Linked DNA regions of Homo sapiens: region 1 is linked to region 2. Evidence: fine-mapped expression QTL. A gene starts in region 2. The other region holds a variant in brackets. All regions are shown on one strand. Distances are between the middles of the regions.

Region 1 (8,322 bases), 44 kb before region 2:
GGCAGATGGCCTTTTGATGGAGATTCCAGGTGAATGAATGAGCATTTCAGGCAGCTGCGTATAACCGAGCCCTAGCTCACATGACTCAGGAACCATCCCTTCATTCAGCACAGTTTCTTGGTCCTCCAAGTTTGCTTTTGAGGGACAGAAAATCAGGTCGGGAGGCCACTGACCATGGTGGCAGTTGCTCCTGTAGTCAAGACTAGCTCCTTGGCCAATGCACACACATGCTCTGAAGCTTAGGCCTTTGTTTCTAGTCAAAAGGTGGGCTGCTCTTGGGCTACAGCATGACAGAGACATGCCGAAGCCCTTTTCCTTTCAGATACGGCGTGGAGATCAGCTCCTCCACCAGCATAATGGGACCCAGCATCCCTGCCAAAACTCGGGAGGTGCTCGTCAGCCACCTGGCATCTTACAACACATGGGCTTTACAAGGCATGTATGGAGTTTCTTGTGGGCTTGGCAGGTGGCTGTGAAGGCCATCAGTGTCTGAAGCCTGTACTTGCCCCTCCCCAGGTCCTGTGAGTGGAGAGGCACAGAGTGTTCTGGGCTAGCTGAGTGTGGAGGCTGGGTGGCTCTGATGCTAGCCAATCACTCTACGCTCTAGGCTCACACCTTTCCACCTTCGACTTCGCCAGCAGAAGTCTTGAGTTCAATCTCATTGCCCTGGCTTGGGTCACATGTCCATCCATGAACCAATCACTAGACTGGGTGCGGAAAGCTCTGATTTGCCAAGTTCGGGTCATGTGTCTCACTAGGTAAGAGCAGAGGAGGATCACCCCCAGGGAAGACCAGAGTGCTCTTTCAGAAGAGTGGGACAATCGCTGGATGGCTCTTTGCACCACTCACTCCTGTTCTCTGCTAGGGCTGCTGGGACTCACAAGGGGTAGGTTGTGGCAGCTGCCCTGTTTTGGGTTCTGACTTGGCTTGTGTCCCTGCAGGGATTGAGTTTGTAGCTGCCCAGCTCAAGTCCATGGTGCTAACCTTGGGCCTGATTGACCTGCGCCTGACAGTGGAGCAGGCCGTGCTGCTGTCACGCCTGGAGGAGGAGTACCAGGTGAGGAGCAGCACCTCAGGTCCCGCCTCCCCCTTCCTAGTTCAGACTCACTTTGGGGGAGCAGCTAACCCATCTGAAATATAGTTATGCATACTTGGCTTTTATTACTTTTATGTACACGCAGAAATCAAAATCAAGGACCAGCAGAAGTATTGTCAAGTAGGCCTGGCATGGTGGTTCACACCTGTAATCCCAGCACTTTGGGTGGCTGAGGAGGATGGATCATTTGAGGTCAGGAGTTTGAGACCAGCCTGGGCAACATGGCAAAACCCTCTCTCTACAAAAATACAAAAATTAGCACCTGTAGTCTCAGCTACTTGGGAAGCTGACGTGGGAGGATTGCTTGAACCTGGGAGGTGGAGGTTGTAGTGAGCCAGGATTGTGCCACTGCATTCTAGCCTGGGTGACAGAGTGAGACCCTGTCTCAAAAAAAAAAAAAAAAAAGGTAAGATAATAACAATAAAAAAATAACAGTAAGTGCTACCGCTGTGTTCCTGCATTGTATCCATCTCACCTCCTCTCAGCAGCCTGGGCAGGTAGGAGCTGTGGTTATCTCTGTTTTACACAGAAGGAAATGGAGGTGCAAGGTTGCACCTCTGGAAAATGTGCCAGCTGGGGTTTGAAGCCAGGTCTGGTGATTTTAGGGCCAAGGCCGTCAGGCCTCACTCTGCACAAGGAGGTTCACGGGTGGATAAAGACCATCTGGGCTTGATAAAGCCTGCAGAACAGGCCCTGCCAAGATGACTGAGAACCCGTTTGTGCTCCTTCATCAGCTGAGCCTTCATACCCTGACATTTTATCTGGCTGGCAGAGGAGCATAGGGGTAGCTGCTGTTTGTATACAAGTTTTGATTTAGTGGGCTCAGAATTAAGGTTTTGCCACAGTATGGTTTGCATTTTTTAACTCTGAAAATTATAGCCATCTTTGCAGTCTTTTTATTGTTATTCCACCAACCTCAGAAGGTTAATTGCTATTATGAATTGGTCCCTAATATGGTAAAAACAAACAAACAAAAAAACACAAAACTTTTTGTGATGTATTTCCCTAGTTCTTGTAGTCTTCTGCTCAGAAAAATGCCAGGGAAAAAACTATTTTTGTATAACAAAGGAGGCCCGCTACTATTCTCTGGATGTCAGAACTGATTACATAGGAAGGGGGTGACTTGTAGGGCTGGTGGGAAGCCAGTCTGGGCTCTGCTTCTGACTATGGGACCCAAGCCAGGCCATCATTCTCTGAACTTTGGTTTCGATCCTCTACAAACAGAGGAATAACCTGAATTATGTATGTGATGGTATACAATGAAAGTATGGAATACTCTTCAGATGACATATTACAATTGTACAGTTTGGGACCAGGCAGCCCAGAAGTTCAAATAGCTTGTGTAGCATGGTGGATTCTGAGTTCCTGGATGAGCTGGGGCGGCCAGGCCAGGCCTCTTGGGCAACTAGCCAGGGAGGAGCCAGCAAGGTTTGGTTGGACTTACACTGTCTGGACAGCCACATCGTGTGTCTGAGCGTTCCTCCCTCTTGTTTTTAGAGCTCCAGACAGAGAATCTGCAACTTGTCCCCAGTGTGCAGAGCAGAGGCATCTGTAGTTCTGTGACTACCACAAGAGTCAGAGTTGAAGCCACTGCGTGGCCTTACTTGATTTAGTTATTCCACCCACATGGCGCTGGGGGGCACTTGTAGCCCAGCATGGCAAGGCAACTTGGAGAGGCTGTCCATTCACAGGCTTTCTGGGAGGAAGTGTAGGAGAAGGGATGGCACATAAGGCCTCCTCAAAGAAGTCACATGGGTGGTTCTGGTACCCAGCCTGCCCAGTGGTGGGTGGGCAGCCACTGGCCCTGGGCCTGGGCCTGGACTGCACTTCTTCCAGACCATCCATGCCACAGAGAGCACAGGTGCCTGCTCCGGCTCCCTGGGGGTGGGGTGGTGGGGTGTGTGTGTGTGTGTGTGTGTGTGTGTGTGTGTGTGTGGTGTTTTTGAGACAGGGTCTTGCTCTGTTGCCCAAGTGGGAGTGCAGCGGTGTGATCTTGGCTTACTGCAGCTTCAGCCTCCTGGGCTCAAAGCAGTCCTCCTACCTCAGTCTCTCAAATAGCTGGGACTACAGGTGCACCCCCACCACACCCAGCTAATTTTTAAACCTTTTTGTAGAGGCGAGGTTGCACCATATTTGCCCAGGCTGGTCTTGAACTCCTGGATTCAAGCAGTCTTCCTGCCTCGGTCTCCCAGAGTGCTGGGATTACAGGCGTGAGCCACCGTGTCTGGCGTACCTGGGTGTTCTTACCTGCCACCTCCCCCTAGGCATGTCTCATGTGTTTTGGCAAGATACAAACCTGTTGCCCTCAGCCAACCTATTGGAATGGAACGTGGCTTTGGTCAGGAGGCAGCCAGGCACTGGCCACTCACCCAGCAACTTGTCTTGTCCTTCCCTCAGATCCA[G/A]AAGTGGGGCAACATTGAGTGGGCCCATGACTATGAGCTGCAGGAGCTGCGGGCCCGCACCGCCGCCGGCACCCTCTTCATCCATCTCTGCTCCGAGAGCACCACAGTCAAGCACAAGCTCCTGAAGGAGTGAGGCCTGGGCAGAGCACACTCAGCAGGATAGAGGCAGTGCAGCCACAGCTCCCCCGGCCTTCAGGGCTCCCCAGCCTGTGGGGCTGGCTTCCTTGGCTTTTGGGGACTCGGCCTCAGCGTCACCCTGAGATTCCCCCCGAGACACAGTGCGCTAGTACGGCTGTCCGGAGGTCAGCCTGATTTCAACCCAGGTGCCCCTGGCCTGGCCAGCAGTGAATGTAGGAGATGAATTGTGCAAGTGACTTTCTCTCGACTCTGATTTTATTAAATATTTCTCCACCCTGGAAATGTGCTGAGCCCTGTTTTCACGTATGCCTCTGCACTTCTCCATTCTTCCTGTTTTGTCTAGGTTCCAGAGGGTTAAACAGCTTATCTCCCATGGCGTGTTTGGATATCTGCTGCCTGTGGTCAGGAACCTTGCACTGGGGAAACAATCATGTAATCCACAGACAACTCTATTTGTGTTCTTCAGCCTCAGCCTGAAGGCTTTTTTTTGGCTGGCTTTTAATCAAACAATCTTTTGAAACAATTGTGGTCTAAGCTGGTTGTTTCTATTTGTTCCTACTGTTCTAAAACAAATGATTTACTCTAGAAAGTAGAAAATAGAAGTTGTTTCTGGGCTAAAAGCCTGGACAGGCTTGACAAGGTCACCTGATGTGCATGTTTCCGCTCATCTCCCACCCAGGAGTCCTAAGGGTCCTCCTGACATAGCCACCTCTAGTGTCCCAGGAGGCAGGCGCTACTTTCTGGTGTCAGGCCAGTAAGAGGGCAGGGGGGAAGAGTGGTTCTCAGGCAGACAGGCTCTCTCAGCCCTGTGTCCTTGCCAGCCTGAGTAAGGTAATGGCATCAACCCTGCTCACAGGGCACTGATCGCATGCTGGGTGCCTCTCCACGCTTCCCATGCACTGTCTCCCTGAACTGTTCCTCGAAGGCACTGTGAGGTACTGTCACAGATGACACCAGGGCTGCGGGGGTGACATGGTGGAGCTGGGATGCCCTGCCTGCACTCTGCTCTTCTGGAGGGTCCTCAGGTCCTTGTGGCTAACCTCAGCCTTGGTGGGCAGGCCCAGGCCCCAGCACTGTGGTGGGAGCTGCAGCCTCTCCTCCTGCTTCCCTGCCCCTCAGCACCCAGAGCAGAGAAGGTCTTAGCCCACACCGGCCTCCTTTTGCCTGTGGCTGGCAGCCTGCCTAGGCATGGCAGGGGAAACGGCAGGGGCACGTGTCTGACTTTATGCCACAGCCAAGAATCTAGCTGATGGCAGTGCCCTTGGGAGTTGCTCTGTCAGCTGGCCTGGGACCGGCTGTTCATCTCAAACTCTTTCTCTTGTTCCTACATGAACATTTTTTTTTTTTTTTTTTTTTTTTTTTTTTTTTTTTTGAGACGAAGTCTCGCTCTGTCGCCCAGGCTGGAGTGCAGTGGTGCGATCTTGGCTCACTGCAACCTCCGCCTCCCAGGTTCAAGTGATTCTCCTGCCTCAGCCTCCTGAGTAGCTGGGATTACAGGTGCACGCTACCACATCTGGCTAATTTTTGTATTTTTAGTAGAGACAAGGTTTCACCATGTTGGTCAGGCTGGTCTCGAACTCCTGACCTCGTGATCTGCATGCCTCGGCCTCCCAAAGTGCTGGGATTACAGACGTGAACCACCGCACCCAGCTGATTTTTTTTTTTTTTTTATGAGTAGGGGAAATGTGAAATGAGTCCTTTATTTTCTCTACTTTTGGAAGTTTTTCCAGGGGTGGGGGAAGAATGGTGTTGGGGATCGCGGTTGAGAGATGCCCAGCAACTCTCTAGAGGTGCGGGTGAGGCGTGTGCACTTCCTTCTCCTGGCTGGGGCTGGTGCTATGTTTTGAAGAAGCTCCTGTGGCTGACATTCATCTAGTCTAGGATGTCGCCACATTCCAGGTTGTCCAGTTCGCTCTGCATGTGGTCGATGTACTGATTGATCTCCTTCACGCGCTTGCGGTTCCTCATGATCTCATCCTTGTGAATCTGAGGAGTGAAACCAAAGCCCGATTCCTTACATCAGATCATTGGTTAATATCTTTCACTGAATCCAGTTTGAGGGAAGGGGAAAATAGTTCCTTTAGATCTGCAAACCTCATTTGCTTCAGCGCCTCCCCAGGTTCTGCTGATCTCTGTATATTTGAGGTAGGAATTAGGAAAATGATGAAGCCCATGGGTTTTAAAGTCTCTGGGCAATGTTGTCTTCAGTGTGGAATTCTATAATCCTTAATTTTATTTCTTCCTTCATTTCATTCCTTAATGAAAATTCTATCCACTACCTAGGGAGGATTTCCATGTCAGCTAGAAAAGTTCATCCAGCCTGCTAGGATGGCTTGGGATTGACTCACCCTGTCTATTAAACGTGTACACCAAGAGTTGATTCTGGTCACCAGCTCATCTTCTCGATTGTCAATCTTCAGGAGGTGGATGTCGTGCGATGCCCCGACAGCATTAACAATCGTATCTTTATCGACAAAAAGCTGGTGAGTGAAAAGAATCCAATGAGAAAGTGTGTGTCATTATACCGTGAACACAAAGGGAGCTGAACAGAGAAGGAGCATTTGGAAGTCCCCTGGCTGTGCAGGCCACACTCAGAGCAGAGCCCACCTTTGTATCAGCGCACTCTGCCGATTCATCTGTGAATTCATCTGTGACAGCCGCTTCCCCAACTGCACAGGGCAGGTGTTGTGGGGAAAGGGCCAACCAGGGTGTTACTTTGCAGTCCCCGCTGGAAGCATGTTTCCTCCAGGGTGAAGGCAGATGGCTGCCCAGGGGGCACCTCACCCAGGACATCTGTTCTCACAATGCTTCTCTCTCAATTACTCTCAAGTCTAACTTGCCCAAAACCTCTGCCTGCTGGGTGGAAGCATGAGGCTGGCTGAGGGTCTCGAGGCTGCTCTGAAGACAGCAGGCCCTACAAACTCATGGGTGTTCACCCCACAGTTGTCTCTCCACTGCCACTCATGTCAACAAAACCAAACTTTGGATTCCATTTGGAGTATCCTTCTGCCTTCTCTTGTTCCTGACTTTGCTGTCTTGTAAAAAGTTGTTAGAAACAACCACCTTCTAATAGGCCTCACTGGTTCTAGGTGTTGACACTGTGGCTATTGTTGCCTGGGATGGTTGAAATGGAGTCATTTCCCAGAGCAGGGCAAGGCCACTGAAGCACTCAGTAAGCAGTTGCTTCCACCTTGAAGCAGAGGCGCTTGGTAAGGCAGAGCACCTGAATGCTCTGTATTGCAGGGAGGATTTGCAAGTGGAGTGTGCATTTTTTGTTCTTTCCTGTAGTGGCAGTTAACTTAATGGTCTCTAAAACGTTCTGTGCAATCTTAAGATGTTAATATTTCTGCCAAAAAAAGTATTCTTTGGTCAAATACATTTGGGAAAGCCAGCACATCCTAGGCCCCTCCTAAAGATTTGCTGGGCACAAAGTATTCTGAAGGCTCTACAAAGTCCTGTGGAAAATAAACCCTTTAAGCTTTGTCTCTCTTGGTTTTCCAACTTTTTTGGCTACAGACTTCAGAGTAATGCCTGTTAATGTCTTGTGGGATGCTGATTTTCCACATAATCTCATGTGGGAAAAGCCAGGTTAGCTGATATGTGGAATGGGGTGTCTGGGGGACCAATTAGCACAGTCACAAGGGAGAAATGTCAAGAAATTATTAAGTTCTTTCCATGTGTGTACAAGGTCCCAGGCCAGGCTCTGGGAATGGTTCAAAGGTGTGTAAAGCCTGTTTTCGGTGAGCCTTGGCAGTGTGCTTAGGAGTGGGTGTCCTGGTTATTTTAGAGATAACTACAACCACAGTGTCAACCCATCACGAAAAGGTTCTCATCCTTCATTCTAAAAGGTGGGTCATAGTGGAGCTCTAAGCCAGGCAGAGAAATCATACCCCTCAGAGTTTGAATATGTAGAAAACAGCTTCAAAAGCTGTGAGAAGCAACAGAAACTGAAATCTGCTTAGAAACATACATGATTAGAATTGGTTATGAAAAACTGTGTGACATTTGTAAAATGAAAACAAAAGGAAACTGGGTTTAAGGGAATTGTTTTGAAATGTGAGTTACAAGTTGTTTCTGGACTTTGGGTGGCCTAGAGTGGTGGCTACTTCAATTTTCCCTCTTAGAATAGTTTTTATGGGTAGAATATTCCAGATCCCTCTCCAGTTTCTGCAGGTTGAAAGCACTAGGGTGGAGGCAGGGGCTGTGCAAACAGGTATTCCTGAGTCTTTTTTGAGCTGTTGCCCTGCTCTGTGGTCCTTGTGGCTGTAAAGACACATTTCTTTCAAAGCAACTTCTTTGTTTAAACACGTTGGCACTGGCCGGGCACGGTGTCACATGCCTGTAATCTCAGCACTTTGGGAGGCCAAGGCGGGAAGGTGGGTGGATCACCTCAGTCAGGAGTTCAAGACCAGCCTGGCCAATATGGTGAATAAAAATACAAAAATTAGCTGGGCATGGTGGCGGGTGCCTGTAATCCCATCTACTTGGAAGGCTAAGGCAGGAGGATAGCTTGAACCTGGGAGGCCGAGGTTGCAGTGAGCCAAGATTGCACCACTGCACTACAGCCTGGGCAACAACAGTGAAACTCCACCTCAAAAAAAAAAAAAAAAATTGGCATTAAAAAAATTGACAAATAACTGTACATATTGATGGGGTACATAGTGATGTTTCAACACCTATCATGTA
Region 2 (8,322 bases):
TGCATGGAATCCTGGGGCTTGAAGATGGAGCAGAGAAAGCCAGGGAGGGCCCACCCTGGCCACCACCCCTGAACCTTGGATACATACTCCGAAAGTCCAGCTGCAGGGACAGGACATCCTTGAAGAGGATGCCCTCCTGCTTGGCCAGCTGCCCGGCCTCCTCCTGGGGGCCCTGGTCCCCGACGGCCAGCTTGAGCATGTCATCGTCCATCACCCTCGGCTCCATCGAGTTGCACGGCTGGTTCATCTTCCCCCACGTTTTCCCTAAAAAACACCGCATTCTTCCTTCACGGCCTGCTTCTTTCTCTGTTTGAGGGCAGGGTCTGGCTGAGGTTTCCCCCTGTAGTGTCTTGTGGCCACTGGCACTCTGAGGAATGCCCCACGCCCAGCCCTGGGTCTGCTGCATCTCGGGGTTTGTATACTTACGCCAAGGCTGCTCCAGGGCTTCCTGGCAACCACCTGGGCCTGTCCACAGGGTTTCATCCCTTGACCCTACAGCCACAGCTGGGACCCTCGCTGGACCCACTGGACTGGTGTCCACACTGGTCTCCCTAGCCTGTGATCTTGACTCATCTTATGACTGTGGCCCTGTGTCAGGCCTCTGACTTTGTATGCCCATCCTCACTTGGGCTTGTGGGTACCAACCACTGACTGTGCTCCCTGGGCAGCCCCAGCCAGGCCTGTCAGCCTGCAGCTCCTCTTCCTTGAGCACCTCACCCCCTCCAGGCCGTCATGTGTGTATGCCCCACACCACACCACAAGCTTCTCCTGGTGCAGAGGGAGCCCCTGACCCAAGCTGCCCATTCACGTCCTCCCCGTGGGAGATGTGAAGTTGAGGCTGTGGAATGAGAGTGCCCATCGGAGCTGGCTGCTTGAGCTGGGGAGGAATAGGGAGTGTGGGCTGGCTGGGTACATAGTTAAGCAGAGAGCAAGAGGGGGAGGAGGCAGATGCACAGAGAAAAGCAGAGATGGGAACCTGGGAATCAGAAAACAAAAGACAAAGGACAGACAGATCGACACAGACAGAGGCTGCCTCCTTCTTGCTGGCTTTCCAGTCCCTAATGTCCCTAGGTCCAGGCCTCATGAGAGTTTCCTGTTTCTCACATGAAATCCTCTTCTACTTAAGCTAGCTCCAGTAGGTTATTTTTTAATTTAATTAATTTATTTTTTTTGAGACAGAGTCTCGCTCTGTCGCCCAGGCTGGGGCACAATGGCGCGGTCTCAGCTCACTGCAACGCCCGGATTCAAGCGATTCTCCTGCCTCAGCCTCCTGAGTAACTAGGATTTCAGGTGTCCACCACTACGCCTGGCTAATTTTTTGTATTTTTAGTAGAAACGGGGTTTCACCATGTTGGCCAGGCTGGTCTCAAACTCCTGACCTCAGGTGATCCACCTGCCTCCGCTTCCCAAAGTGCTGGGATTACAGGCATGAGCCACCGTGCCCAGCCTCCAGTAGATTCTGTTGCTAATGGTCCAGAGGGATTTGACTGAGACACCACAGCACAGGGGGGATCTGTAGATTTGGTCAGTCACAATGTGAGGCTGACTCCAGGCTGCCGTTCGTGGCTGGACCACATTCTCATCCTTATCAACCCTCTTGGTGAGGACATCCAGGAGGGATATTTTCCCCCACTTTCCACCCCTGATTCTTGCCTCCCTGCTGGCCCTACTTCCTATCTTTGTCTACATGCCTTCCCAGCATCTGGGCCTCCCTGAACCTCCTGTCCTTCTGCCCTGCTGGTCCCTGATGCTAGGCAGCCCCTGTGCTCTGTTTTTCATTCCACTGGGCACTGCTGGAGAAACTCCTGGTGCAGGGCTGATGGTGTCTGCTGAAAAGCCAGGTTGGGCCATACAATCCTGTTACCTGGTCTTAGAGACTTCCCTCTAAGACTGCCCTCCTCTTGCCTCCCTGACCATCCACTTGGATGCAGCTTCTGCAAATATGCATCCTCTGCCCTGAACTGTCCCTCATCAAATGTCCCAATGAGCTCTTGTGCACACTTCTCTCTTGCTTCCAGGGGAGGCATAGCCTCCACACCCTTCAACCCCTACCCCTTCTCCACCTGTGCCTTCCGTCCTCCCAAGACCTTGGTCCTTTTCCTCCCACTCTCTCCAATCTGTTCACACTGGCTCCACCTCGTTGGGGTGACTGATTCTACCCCCAAAGACAGTTCCAGACCTCGGCCTCTCTCTAGCTCCCCACTCTTATGCAATGGCTTCCCCTGCGGTTTCCCATAACTTGTCATCAACTTGTCTTTGGGGGAATTTTAATGTGTTATATTTGGCTGATGTTTTCTGCAAAGTGTTTGGCCTTTTTTTTGGGGGGGGGGTGGGGAGGTCAGGCGCGGTGGCTCACACTTGTAATCCCAGCACTTTGGGAGGCCGAGGTGGGCGGATCACAAGGTCAGGAGATCAAGACCATCCTGGCCAACATGGTGAAACCCTGACTTTATTAAAAATACAAAAATTAGCTGGGCATGGTGGCGCATGTCTGTAATCCCAGCTACTTGACAGGCTGAGGCAGGAGAATCGCTTGAACCAGGGAGTTGGAGGTTGCAGTGAGCCGAGATCGTGCACCACTGCACTCTAGCCTGGTGATAGAGCGAGACTCCATCAAGAAAAAAAAAAAAAAAAAGGTGCTATACTTTGGGAAATGACTCTTAATTTTGATTTCAAAACTTTAACTGACTTATCCCTCCTACTTCATCAGGGCCTGGTACCTGTGACAGATCAAGTTTGCTTTCAGTCAAGCCCAGCAATTGCTATGCTAGGAAATGGGGGATTGTTATTACATATGCTATTTGTTAAGCACATCAGAGCAGGATTTGGATCCTGACTGTGCATCTTTTGGCAACTCACTTCACCTATCTAAGCCTTGGCTTTCCCATCTGTAAAAGGTGGATAATTTCTCCCTTCTGCATTTGTGTGAGATCACGTATTTAGTCCACACATGGGTAGTGAGTAACTGCTATATGCTGTGAATAAAACAGACGGACTTTAACCCAGCTTCAGGCATGAATCAAACAATAATACAAATATTTAACTACAAACCATGACAATTTGTAGGTGTAGGGAACTATGAAATTGTACATTAGGGGCACCTGGCCTGGCCAAGGAAGACAGGGCTGATTGGAAGGACAAGCAGGAAAGAAGGAGGAGGTAACTTTGTGGAAAGGCCCTTTAGGTGGGAGAGAACAGACTTGTTGCACTTTGGCTGAAGTGATGCAAGTTTGGAGAGGTCTGTGGGAGTTTTGTTATTATCCTAGAATCCCTGGAAAGCACCTAGGGCTTAATAAGGGCAGCAACATTAGCTGGGCATGGTGGTGCATGCCTGTAGTCCCAGCTACCCTGGAGGCTGAGGCAGGAGAATCGCTTGAAACCGGGAGGCGGAGGTTGCGGTGAGCCGAGATCGTGCCATTGCACTCCAGCCTGGGCAACAAGAGCGAAACTCCATCTCAAAAAATAAAAAAAATAAGGGAAGCAATGTGATCAGATCTTAGTTTTTAAGAAGCTCACTCTAGCAACAGTACTGAGAATTGCAAAAGTACTGAGGTGAGAGATGACCAGGGTGTTAGCAAGATGTAGATGGGAGAAATTTCTAGAAACTTAATTTACATGTAGGGCTAATACTCACCAATATCCAGATAAGAAAACAGAAGCTAGTTAAAAAGGTTAATTAACATGCCCAACTTCATACACTTAGCACGTGGCAGAGTTCATTTTCCTAATCATGACTCAACTGTATCCAGGGTACTGGGGACTATCATTGCCACAGCTCACAGTGTTTCTCACAGTTGTCCTGGGTTCAGGGCCAAGGCCCAAACAGTCCTCTTCTATGGGGATCTTATAGTTTACCACCCAACCTGGGTCCCCTTTGACTTGCCTGATGATAGTGTTGTTGAAGACCAGAGAGGTTGGAGCTGGGGAAAGCAGCAGAGTTTTACACAACTGTCAACGGAGTGGCCTCCTCACAGATAACAGATCCAGAATTTTCCTGGGAAATGATAACCTGAAGTCAACAGGATCTGAAAACTATAGTCCCTATTGGCCATGAATTAATAAGGAGAAAATTGGTTGGGCGAGATGGCTTACACCTGTAATCCCAGCTCTTTGGGAGGCCGAGGTGGAAGGACTGCTTGAGTTCAGGAGTTCAAGACCAGCCCGGGCAACATAGGAAGACCCTGTCTCCATTTTTAAAAATAAAAAATAAATAAATAAATAAATAATGAACAAAATTTTTCTTAAAAAAGAATAAAATCAATCACTTACTGAATGCTTACTGTGTGCTCAGTGCACATGCATTATTTAAGTACATGTAAGCTCCGGAGGCCATAAAAAGGGAGTCCTAATGCCCTTATTTCCCAGCTAGGGAACCTGAGGCTCCAGGGAGGTAAAGGAACTTGTCCAAAGTCGTACAATGAGTTACTGACAGAGACGGATACAGAACTTGAGTAGCCGTATTCACATCCAAAGCGGTATATACAGTACCAAGATGAAATCATTTGATAGTTATGAGGTCAGTTATGATGGCTAAATTCTGGGAAAAGTTATCAGTGGACCGGGTACCTCTCTTTCTATGAAAGGAGGCTGGAAGACGGAACCCCTTAAAAATCCATTCTGGCCCTGCTCCCTCGGGAAATGCTTCCTTAGTATTTTTTTTTTTTTTTATTCAAAAGCTTGACAAGCCCAGGACTAAAGTGTCTTGGCTGTCTCACACGACTGTAAAGTGGCTGGGAGAGGACCTACGTGCTCATTTTATAAATGAGAAGGGCCGGGCCGGCGTTCTCCGAGAAAAAGGTCACAGGAAAGAGTTACGTCGGGCACTATCTGTCCCTGCAAGTCCTCCGGGAGCCTCAGCTCCCAGGTCTCACCTTCTCAAGCGCTGGGAACTCGGCGGTTCCACGCAGCAGACGCGTCTCCCGGTTGCTGGGGAACCAAGCGCCGCGACTTGGTTGCTAAGGGGAAGTCAGAAGGGAGACATCCTGGGTGAAAGTTGACAAGTCACGTGACCACATCTCCGTGTGGTGAAACACTCCTTACACCAACCAGCCGTAGAGAAAACAAATGTTTCTCCAATCAGTACTTTCTATGGGCGGGGATATTCCTAGATTCACCTCTGTTCCGTCCATTTGCGTGATTGACTCGTCTTTTGTCCAATAATAGTAAGAATCCTTTAGATTGACCAATATACAGAGGAATCAAAATGCGCAGCTTCCCCTTTGGGGGCGGGCCAGGGGAGGTGCCGCCACGGCTGACAGGGACTCCGGTGACCTAGCTCGCTCCTCCGCCCAATCGGACGCTGCGGGGTGGGTGGGGGCTTTGCTGACAGAGGTGTAACGACCAATAGGAGGCGGGCTTCGTAGGTGTCCCCCAATAGAGACGCGGCAAGGGGGCGGGGCCAAAGGCCCTAAGCTCGGCGTTCCAGAGAGTGGGGAGGGGGCAAGTGTCAGTCAGGACGGGAGTCCGGCGGGTTACAGCGGAGGCCTAGGTGGCAGACAGGGGGCCCGGGCCGCTGCGTGTTGTCCACCCAAGATGGAGTTCCTCCTGGGGAACCCGTTCAGCACACCAGTGGGGCAGTGCCTCGGTAAGGCCGCGTGTGGGGCAGGAGGCTGGGCAACGGCGGCCGCTGATCCGGCTGGTGAGGACCGCGGGCCTCCGCCGGGCGCCGGTGCCACTTCACGAGCGGGCTGGGCCTCCGCCAGCCGCGGGTGCCACTCCACGAGCGGGCTGGGCATCCTGGTCGTCGGGCCTTTGCCGGGCGCTTGTGCCACCTCACGGGCGGGCTGGGCATCCTGGTCGTCTGGCCTTCACTGGGCGTCGGTGCCACCTCACGGGCGGGTTGGGCATCCTGGTCGTCGGGCGTTCGCCGGGCGCCGGTGCCACCTCCCGGGGGGGCTGGGCCTTCGCCGGGTGCCGGTGCTATCCCACGGGCAGGCAGGGCATCTGTGTCCTCGGGCCTCCTCCCGGGCACTGGTGCCACCTCACGGGCGCGCCAGTGCCACTCTGCCAGGAGGCACCCCTGAGGCCCAACTTGGACTCGGAGATGCCCCAGGCTTCCCTGCCCATCAAGGCTCAGCCCTTCCTTTTGCTGCTAGAGGTGGTGCCAACTGCTGGTCTGCTTCCCCAATGCGCTTTGGGAGATGCCACTGCATGTGTCTTTATCCAGCCCAGCAGGCTCACTGCCACTGCCCCAAGGACCCAGTTCTCCCAAACCCTTTGTGGGATGTCACCTTCTTCTCCATCTTTGTCCCTCCTCTTCGGTACCAGCAACCCTCAGACTGGGCACCCTCCCAGAAATGCCCCCTGCTCCGGGACTTGCTAATTTGAGCTGCAACTCAGCTGTGCTGTAGGAGGGACTGGGATAGGAGGAGGGGCTCTTGGAGGGTGATTATCTTGGCAGGGGGATGGCATGCCTGCAGTGCCTCCCAGGAAAGAAGGGAGGCTGTGTTATTTAATGATAAGAGCCCTGGACTGGGAATCATGGAAGCCTGGACTCTAGCAGTGGTTTTGTCAGTGACTCCATATGACCTTGTGCCCTTTCTGGTTTGAAGTTCCCCTGTCTGTCAAAGTGTTTGGAGATGAGATGTGATAGATCCCTTAAAGTTCTCAAGTTTTGATATTCTTTGTAGTACTCTGCACATTGACTGTTGCTTCCTCCCCCACCTCATATTAAGTTTACCAAAGCTGAAATCTTTTGTTGGCAATGTAGAGAGAATGGTACTCAGCATTATCTGTTAATCCTATAGGGGGGATGTGGACACCTGGGGACACCAGAGATGGCCAGAATCATGGATAAGGAAAGCCCAAAGTGTAGGTAAAGGAATACTGAAATGGCCACCATATGGGACTTCCTTACTAAGAAAGCAACTTGCCTTTTTACCCAAGGCAGTGGCTTATGCCACTTGATCAGTCAAGAATGCTGATTAGTTTGTTTGAAAACTGGATTCCTCCTGGTTGGTTGAAGGACTGGTAAAACGTCTTTTATGAGCCAGGATCTTTGGTGTTCTTATGGGCCTGATTTCAGCAGTAGTGATTTGTTTATTTTCTGCTTTGCTTATGAAATTTTAGCTTACTTTCCAGCCTTTAGTGGAGCCTATAAACTTATTGAGGTCTCTCCTGTTGGCTAATTAGCATTTAGGAGCCTTTCTTTACTTTCTGGCGTAGTATCTTTTATAATGCATGAGGGACCCCAAAAGAGTGTTTTCCCACCTTTTTGACATCTTGTCTCTTGCTGCCCACTGGAGAGTCTCTGGATTCTCACTTCCTTACTTCTTCCCCATGTCCTTTTCCACTCTCTTCAGGTGCTCTTGCATGGCAGCCACACTCCAAAAACTAATTTCCAGCCAGTTAATGGAGGGAGCCAGAAAACTTGCGAGAATTGTTTTCCTTTCTGTCCCCTTTATAATAGGAAGCTCTACACCTTTAAAATGACAAGGTAGTAAATGAGGGGTAGAAGTTAAAGGGGATTTAAAATACAAATGTGGTTGGGTGCGGTGGCTCACGCCTGTAATCTCAGCACTTTGGGAGGTTGAGGCGGGCGGATCACAAGGTCAGGAGATCGAGACCATCTTGGCTAACACGGTGAAACCCCGTCTCTACTAAAAATCCAAAAAAAAAAAGAAAATTAGCCAGGCGTGGTGGCATGCGCCTGTAGTCCCAGCTACTCGGGAGGCTGAGGCAGGAGAATTGCTTGAACCCGGGAGGCGGAGTTTGCAGTGAGCTGAGATTGTGCCACTGCACTCCAGCCTGGGCGACAGAGTGAGACTCTGTCTCAAAAAACAAACAAACAACAACAACAACAACAAAAAACCAAATATAAGAGATATAGGGATATATAGCAAGTGGAAAGAGCTTGATACTTCTGTCAGGGAGACCTAAGTTGAATTTTGACCTGGCCCCCATTTCTTGGCTGTGTGACCCCAGAAAATTGTGTTGCTTTCTGAGGTTTAGTTTGTCAGTCTTCTGAGAGAGAGAGAGAGAGAGAGAAAGATTCCTATTCACAGAGTAATGTAGTTTAAATGAGATAATGTATGAAAACACTTAGCATAGTATCTGGAACATAGTAGAAGCTCAGTAAATTGAAACTGCCACTGTTAATAACAGAATATTTAAGTTAGGGTTGGATTTTCTATCTGGAGAGGATATGTGAAACAACTGGCCCGTCTGTGACCTGTGAAGGAAAATACCCTACCAGGCCCCAGGATTCACCATTGCTCATAAGATGCTTGACTAAAGATGATGATGGCTCCCCACTGCCAGGTAGCCAATAGGTCATTTCAGTTCAGTTCAGGTAAATGATTAATGGACAGAATTAGGTTCTAA

Which allele goes with the higher level. Alleles are on the strand shown, and positions count from the first base shown. SD is a standard deviation of normalised expression in the study named.
With allele A in place of G in region 1, the expression in transverse colon of the gene that starts at base 4,984 in region 2 is higher (large effect, 0.89 SD a copy in GTEx).

What was found.
Region 1: its variant is fine-mapped to the expression of DRC3 in transverse colon (GTEx, PIP above 0.99). The same link has a PIP of 0.9 or more in esophagus muscle, fibroblasts and subcutaneous fat.

The regions. Positions count from the first base shown.
Region 1 is chr17:18,013,858-18,022,179 of GRCh38, reverse strand. It overlaps DRC3 (dynein regulatory complex subunit 3), which reads right to left. Exons shown (of 14, transcript NM_031294.4): 13 at 5,985-6,116; 14 at 5,291-5,622. The coding sequence ends at 5,509. ATPAF2 (ATP synthase mitochondrial F1 complex assembly factor 2) reads left to right here. Exons shown (of 8, transcript NM_145691.4): 6 at 323-435; 7 at 942-1,057; 8 at 3,494-4,159. The coding sequence ends at 3,631. Among named protein-coding and RNA genes, the nearest start is that of ATPAF2, 21 kb to the left of the region's middle. RefSeq lists a silencer at 4,731-5,025. The variant G/A (reference allele first, on the strand shown) is at 3,499.
Region 2 is chr17:17,969,524-17,977,845 of GRCh38, reverse strand. DRC3 (dynein regulatory complex subunit 3) reads right to left here and starts at 4,984. Exons shown (of 14, transcript NM_031294.4): 1 at 4,872-4,984; 2 at 3,884-3,994; 3 at 88-264. The coding sequence starts at 247. It overlaps TOM1L2 (target of myb1 like 2 membrane trafficking protein), which reads left to right and starts at 5,446. Exons shown (of 15, transcript NM_001082968.2): 1 at 5,446-5,584. The coding sequence starts at 5,533. LOC107984989 (a long non-coding RNA gene) reads left to right here. Exons shown (of 3, transcript XR_001752801.2): 3 at 1-290. RefSeq lists enhancers at 4,693-5,012, 5,384-5,953 and a silencer at 5,693-5,742.